2 linked regions of the Homo sapiens genome follow. The protein of the gene in region 2 interacts with the protein of the main gene of each other region in a biochemical or structural test. Each region holds a gene or a part of one and is shown on either strand. Other genes may lie near its edges. The genes, in order: BCAR1 and ARHGAP32.

What was found.
Region 1: the proteins of ARHGAP32 (region 2) and BCAR1 form a complex in vitro, tested with the Homo sapiens proteins (one study listed by BioGRID).

What each region holds. Positions count from the first base shown.
Region 1 is NC_000016.10:75,238,099-75,241,914, reverse strand, and holds part of BCAR1 (breast cancer anti-estrogen resistance protein 1), read left to right. Parts: intron 1-3,254; exon of another isoform or gene 3,255-3,816. UniProt on the Homo sapiens protein: Docking protein which plays a central coordinating role for tyrosine kinase-based signaling related to cell adhesion. Implicated in induction of cell migration and cell branching. Involved in the BCAR3-mediated inhibition of TGFB signaling.
Region 2 is NC_000011.10:128,965,205-128,969,020, forward strand, and holds part of ARHGAP32 (rho GTPase-activating protein 32), read right to left. Parts: coding exon 3,703-3,816; 3' UTR 1-3,702. UniProt on the Homo sapiens protein: GTPase-activating protein (GAP) promoting GTP hydrolysis on RHOA, CDC42 and RAC1 small GTPases. May be involved in the differentiation of neuronal cells during the formation of neurite extensions.

The sequences.
Region 1 (3,816 bases), on a different chromosome or scaffold from region 2:
GAGCCTCCTGGGCTCTTGCTGATGGGATGCTGGGCCTGGGGACAAGACCTCTGGCCTCCAGACCCTGAGCCCGCTTCCCAAGTCCACAGGGCCCCTGCCTCCCAAGCTCACCTGCCTGTAGGAAGGAGTCAGCACTAGACACTCAGCCCAGGGCTGAGGTGGAGACCTCATTGGTGCCAGCTGGGCAGCGAGTCAGCTGGGAGTTACCCCCACCCCCGCCCATGGGTGGCCTGGTACCCAGGAGGCATGGCCGGAGGTCGTTGGCGGGTGGGGGACTCCATGGACATGGGCCACCAAGCCTGGCCACCAGGGGAACCTGGGTCACTGGCTCCCACTTCCTGCTCTACCTGCTCCTTCAGCCATCTGGTCAGAGGCGAGCCTGGCTGGCGTGGGGTGCCTGGGTGGGGGTGCTCCCAAACTGGCTTTAGCAAGAGGAGCAGGGTCCTGTTATCCCCTGGGGAGGCGGCAGGGAGCAGTGTCCTGTAGGGGAGCCTCAGGCCACAGTCCAGGTATACCCACACCCCACACAGATGAACACACGTGCATGATGCCTGTACCCCACAGATACGAACACCCATGCACACACCATATGCACGAACACACACATGCGCTACATGAATGTGCGTGAATACATGCACATATCTGCATCCCATACCCCATAAATGGACACACGTATACGCCCACACATGCGCACATCATATGCATGAACACGCACACACCCAAACCCCATATGTGTAAACACACGTGCATACTCACCCCACACACAGACACGTGTACGTCCACACATACAAAGCGTGTGCACCCACCAGTATCCCACAAACGTACAAATGTATGTGCGTATGCACACGCACACACAGTCCACACTGCACATGCCCCAAGGTCAGGCACATCCCCACCCCTCCTCTCCCGCCTTTGCAGTGAAGCTTGTCCTGGTGCGGCTGGAAGCCCTGTGGGCTGGGGAGCAGCAGCGAGACCCCCAGACAGAGCCCGGCCTCGAGGCTGTGTTTTGGCAGCTGTTCTGTCTCCGTCTCCGGCAGGGGGCCTGCTCTCAATTGCATCAGGGGCTCAGCCAGCTGGGTCCTTCTCTGCCCATGCCCACTGGTAGAGCTGCCCAGACCTGTGCCCCAAGGGCCCTGACCTGGCTGATGGCCCAGGAAGGAGAGCCCTGTGTCCTGGGCCTGGCTGCTCTCCCCCAGGAAACCTCCCCCAGTCTTGATTGTGTCTGCTTGTATTTTATGATCACAAAAGCAATGCTTGTTTGCTGTAGAAAATGCATAATGTATGGGAAAGTCTGGAGATGAAATTTTCCAATCGCGGTAATCACTGGGAAATTCTGGCATATTTTGTCTAGTATCTGCCCTGTGTTTCACAGATTTATACATGCAGTTTTGCATTTCAAAGTTGTAAATCCAACATTAGATATCAAAAGCATTTTGTTGAATTCTTAAAGCTTGTCCCTGAGCCGCCTTGGACTTTGCTGGGTTGCCCCCTCTGCTGGGGCGGGCCCTGGGCAGTTTCCGATTGCTCATGCCTTCATTACGGTGGCACGGCGGTAACACCTGGCTGCGGGACATCTGTGTCTGAACCTCCAGGTGCTCCCCTCCAAGCCTCAGGCCTGCCCCTCAAATGCCTGGGAAACTGAGTCTCCCAGTTCCAGGGTAGTGGTTGGCTGGGCTGAGAAGGAGCCCTTGCCAGGACTTCACGTGGGCGGGAGGGACACTGGCTCTCAGGAAGCCAAGAGGGTGAGTGACAAGGATGGTGGCCAGGAGGGTCAGAACCCTGGGCCCTGGAGCAGGGTCCAGTGGTTGCTAAGGTGGGAGCCTGGTGGCCCGTATGGCTGAGGGAGAGGTGAGGGCCACACTGGCACCGAGACTCTTTGGGCCGGGTGTGGGCTGTAGGAATCTGAGGGCAGAGGCTCTTTCATGGTCAGATGGGACCCCCGGGGGAAGGCGTCTGTGGGAGGTCGCTCAGGTAGTGCCCCTGGTCAGTGTCTAAGGAGACAGCCATGGCGTGAGGTCAGGCGTGCACGTGGTCCTGTCGGGCCTGTGTTTCACCCTCCTCGCCCTAGAAGCTTCATCTTGCCCCAGGCTCCCCTGTGCTGGGACCTCAGGCTGGGGTGCCTGGAGCTGGGGAGGGAGGGGAGCGGGCTATGGTGGTGGCCCCTCAGGCCACCATGACCCAGGTCGGGTGAGCCCCTCATGCTGGGGTGTGTCCTGGTGGCCGTGGTCGCAGCGCTCCTGTGGTGCTCCATTTCCCAAGGAGGAAACGAGGCTCCTGGATTGGGACCTGGGGGTGCCAGAGCCGGGAGCCAACCCAGGTCAGGGGCGACACCCATTTTGCAGAAGGGGGAGACCAGCCACTGAGCTCCAGGGCGGGGGCCCACTTTGTCCCCTTCCTCCGACCTGACACCTGCCTCTGGGGCCCTTACCGGGAGGCTGGGATGTATTCCTGAGTTCGCTTGTCCCCCCGCTTGATGCCTGATAGTAGGGGAGGAGAGGGGCGGCACCCTGGCCCTGGGGCTGCCTGGGTTCTGTGCGTGCACCTGGCAGTGGGCCTGTGCTGTGTTTTCTCTGCATTGTATGAGGCATGTGTGTCAGAGACCGTGTGGGTCTTATGTCAGTGACTGTGCCTCTGTTCTCTCCTCCTGGGCTCTGGCTGTGTTCCCCTAACCCCCGGGGGACCTCCACGGCCTGCTAGTGGGGTCTCAGGTGTGCAGCAGGGTGGCCTGTGATTAGCAGTGGGGCTGAGTCATTCCCCTAAAGAGCTTTTCCCCCTGGTGGCTGCGTTGCTCTGTTTTTCTAACAGAAACATTTGGTCACTGTGGCTGCCTACTGCCACCCGACTCAGCTCCAAGAGTGGCAGGCGGCCATTTGCCTGGGGAGGCAGGCCTGGGTCCAGCTGCACCCCTGGGCCTCACCGCGTGAGGTTGGGATGGCCACCGGCAGGGTGCTTTTGGAGGATGCTCATCCCTCCTGCTGGTGCTGGGTCCTGGCTGAGCCTTGAGGCTGGGTCCCCACCTGCCTTTGGGAGGCTGGGAGGCCTGGAGAAGCCTCAGGCCGTGCCTCGAGGCCCAGCCAACCTGCCACGTCCCTCCGCCCCGCCTGCCCCGCTGTTGGCAGGTCCCTGCATCTAAAAATAGTTCTGGAGGAGACTCAAGTCTGGGGCGCGTGGAGGGAGATGAGTCTGGAGAGGCAGCCGCCAAATCCACTCCCAGACGCACTGGAAGGGGGCGGGGACACCCCACGGAGGCCCCCAGCCGGGACTCTGCTACCAGGCGTGCTGGAGACCTAGTGGGCCCAGTTCTGCTGCGCTGCGGGGGGCTCTGCCAGGCCTGCGGCTGCTGGGGGGTGCTGGCGCCTCTGCCACCCCCATGCTCAGCGCCCCCCTCACAGCACCCTCAGCAAGCAGGGCTGGCTGCCTGCCTGCATTGGGAGGGCCTCTAGGGGTTCAGGGGCACTGGGCCCGGGGGAGGGGCTGCTTTGGCGCTGCTGCCCTGGGGGATGTGCGGGGAGGCCCTGAGTCAACCCTGTCCCAGACATCCCCTTTGATGAAGGAACAAAAGGTCTTTCAGTGGAGAGAGCTGAACAGGGAGCCTGGTGGTGGAGGCGTGTGGGCGCAGTGTGCCCGGGGGCTGGAGAATCCCACCAGGGAGGCCTTGACCTCCCCAAGGCAGGGAGACCTTCAGGGAAGGAGGCTGCCTGGCATGGCCCCTACCCGCTTCAGGCTGGTGCTGGTGAGGGGTCCTGTGGCCCTGGGCAGGCCATTGTGCTGCCTGCCTCTTCACCCACTGTGCGGGCCTTGGCTTCCCTGGGCTCT
Region 2 (3,816 bases):
AAACAAACAAAACCCAAACCCACAACTCAGCTTCAAATAAGTTTGCAAGAAATGAGACTCTAAATATTTACATATGGGGCAAGAAATAAATCACAAAACTATTTACAAAAATACACAAGCTTATATGCATTAACAATTTACACCAGTTCACAAAAATATTAAGACATAAAAAAACACTATATAAATTAAAATTAAAAACTCAAAAGTATGATCTAAGACTTCCTAGGATGCTTCTCTCATGCAGGTCATGGTTGAAAAATCAGGTTTTGCTATCTCAGAATCTAAACTGTAAAACCATTTTTATTCTTTGAACATTAACAGTACTAATCAGATAAGGAAAAAAGACCCTCTGTGCACACTGACATTATCTTGCACACGTTATAATACACCATTCCTGACATTTCTGTAACACACAGTGCTGAAAATCACATGCCTCTAACCATGTGGAAGAAGTAACTGTCTGACATACTTTTGCTTTCATTATTACTTTCTTACACATTCTGCTCAAGCAGTACTTTGCCAACATCCTAAATGGGTGACTGACAGGGCTGAAAACAGAGAAATGGACTTTGCAGGCTCCTTCTTTAACTAAAGGGGCAAATTTCAAATTTACATCGTTTGCATCTATTACTGCTCCAAATGTGGTAACCTACTCCTCCGTCCCCACTCACGTTAGTTAACAGTCCCTCCTCTCTACAGAATTAGTCCTAGAATTTTTCAACCTGACCCTAAATTTTAAAAAATGCTTTGCCATTGTAAGAAATGTGCAGGCCCTAGTCGTGGGACCATCCCAGGGACTTGCAGGTTTGAAACGAAATTGAATATAGTAAGAAATAAGGCTCCAATGAAATTTATTAATAAGAAAATGGCACCTCTGGGATTGTTAGCAAAATTTTTAGCCAGACGTCCAGGGAATATTTATTTCAATCAGACCAAACTGTGGAATCAGAATTTTGCCAAAAAGATAAAATCTGGAGGCATGGCTATGAAAATGTCAATAGGATTAAATCACGGGTTTAATGTATAAGGCAGCTCCATTTCCTTGATCATAATGCTCCATGTCAAAATTTGAAAGTAATAACATTCAGTTACCCCATTTGTGAAGTCCCCCATTTGTGAAGTCACACACAAGGTGGACTGTGCTGAGGTATCCGGCTCACAGTGATTTGCCATCCGGTTTCCACCCCACAACATTAGAAAGGGAAAGATGCCGGAAAAGTGTTTCAAATAACTGAATCCAAAGTTAAGGCTGTTGCTAGCATGCATTAAATGAAGCAACTCTAGATTTGATCTGAAGTTTGTGTTTCACGCTTGTAACAGTAATTGCAATCATCATTCTGTATTCAAATATTTACCTGATATTTCTAAACCCACAGGACATTTATTAATAAAGAAATTGTTTCGAGGAATTAACCCTACTATTTATAAAATAGGTTTTAGTTTCAGGACTAAACAATGTGTGTGACAACAAATCCACAAATATTAAAACTGGACCGGACTCCCTGGGTTACTTTCTTTAGGCTCTCAGTTACTTAAAGCCGTGTGTATCTCCTGGTCACAGCAGCCCCTCTTCCTAATCTCCATGCTGCTGGTGAGAACTTACAGGGCTGGTGTGGTCTCCAAGGGGCAATGGGTTGCCTACTTGACAAGAATATGATTAAGGTAAAAAAAATTAGTGCCACATATTCACCAAAGGTCATACTCCTGTATGTAGCACCCAGGGTGTTTTTGTGCCAAAGGGAAGTATCCTATCAGGTTTCCTAGCACTTTGACTGTAAAACAGTTGGTTCTGCACTTTTAATGTAGAGGCCTCAATTTCCACAGACCTTTTCACATATGGGTGTTTCAAGGTTTCTACTACAGTTTTTACTGCATCCCTCCAATGAATTCTAAGGGAACAAAAGAAAACCTTATAGAATATTTCCACATATCAATGTGTTGTTCTTGAAACATTTTATTTTTTTCTAAATATAAACCCTTAAAATGCACATTATTTTTTAAAATAAAAACTGGCATGAATCCTAATCTTTATACAATTTCACAGCAATAATAGCAGCATGATTTTAGCCTCTTAAAAGATTTCCTCCTTTGCTCTAAATAAAAATTAATTTCAAGTTCTAAAAAGCCAGAGCAGCAACCATCCAGTAATTGGAATGCAATTCTCCTAGTGTCTTCTACAGACCGAGCATTTAAAATACGTGAATGTATAAAACTTGAGTATTATTAAGAGTTATGGAATGAAATGACAATCTAAACTCGTTTTGTAAACATAGGACTGCCTTGCTAGTCTGATGTATTTTGGGGGGTGGAGGGAGCTGAGAACATAGAATGGAGTTGGGCTAGAGAGTTCCTACTCTAATAAGGAATGCAACTTTCAAAACTCGTGGGTGTTAAACATGTTTTACATGTCTCCAGAGTTATAAAGAGCTATACCTGAAATGCTGGTGTAGATGGTAATTACAAGAAGACTGTGACCACACAAGTATAGAGTAAGCAAACGACAGTAATGCCTTAGGACAGCAATAACTGCCCAGAACTCCACTGGTGAAACGGGGCTGTGAACTAAGCAGTTATTGCAGGAACTTGCAGTCTAATAATAGATAATGCGTAGCTACTTAAATTCCCAGGGACCTCGTACTCTGGTTTAGGAACAGAAACAAACATGGAAATTTATATTCATAATAAATTATGCGTGTCTATCCAGTCAAACCATGCTGGGCTTTTTTTTTTTTTTTTTTTTTTAATGAAAGAAAGTTGATAATTTAGGAAAACCAATGGTATGACATGTTTTACTAGAATTACAATTCACCAAATCTTATTGAGGGGTGGGGTAAGAAGAAAACCTGAAGGCAGGCAATGCATTAAAAGCATCAATAGAGATTTCTGGTGCTAATAAAGTTCACTGACAATAAGAACTTTACTTTCTTCCACCTAAAGAAGTTTCCTTAAGTACTAACTTTTAAAAGTCCATTCTGTCATGATATGAGCCTGTTCACTGAACCGTGAGGAACAAGGATGAAAAATAAGAATAGAAAGAGTATGGTTCAGCCTGAGTCTAAGTGGTCTGGTGTTTTATGATGACTCTACCAAATGTTTAATTTAAAGTCTTAATTTCTTATTTTTAATTATAATGTTGCCAACTGTCTGACTGACCTTGAAGGATCAGGGATTTTTCCACGACTCTAACTGAACACAAGATCCTTCTCAGACGGGGAGAATGAAGTGACAACAGTGTGTCGATCTGCGCAAGTTGTGCAGCTACTGAAGGAGAAGCAGGAACACAACAGGGAATGCAGACGCCTACCAGGAAATCGATGTGAACTGCTCTCAATTATGCAGCAAATACTAAGAAGAAAGGACAATGCTGAATTCAAATTCAGTTAAAGGCAGTCCTCAGGCTCTTTCAAGCTAGCCCTAGATGGCAAGTGTGTCCTGAGACAGGTTTCTCTACTGGGTTTCAGCACGGGGCTTTACCATCCTTCAGATCTTTTCTAAAGACAAAAATGACAAAGTCTATAGATGGAAGAGGGGGTAATGAAGCAGGGAAGGGGAAAAAGATGCTGATTTGTTTACTTTTATTATCATTTTTTAAATGTGGTCAGGGGTTTTATAGTATTTTTTGTTTAATCTTTTTGGTTATTGAAAAAAATAGAACAGTCCACTGTCCAGCAGAGGCTGCTTCAACTCTATTGCTCGCAGGGCTCATTCTGCATGGATCTGTGTTTCAGGATGCTGCAAGGACAACTCTGCGGGCAGGAAGGCCCCTTGACCCAACGCTGTAGCATAGGTCCTGCTCTGTGGATGGGGAAAGCCAGG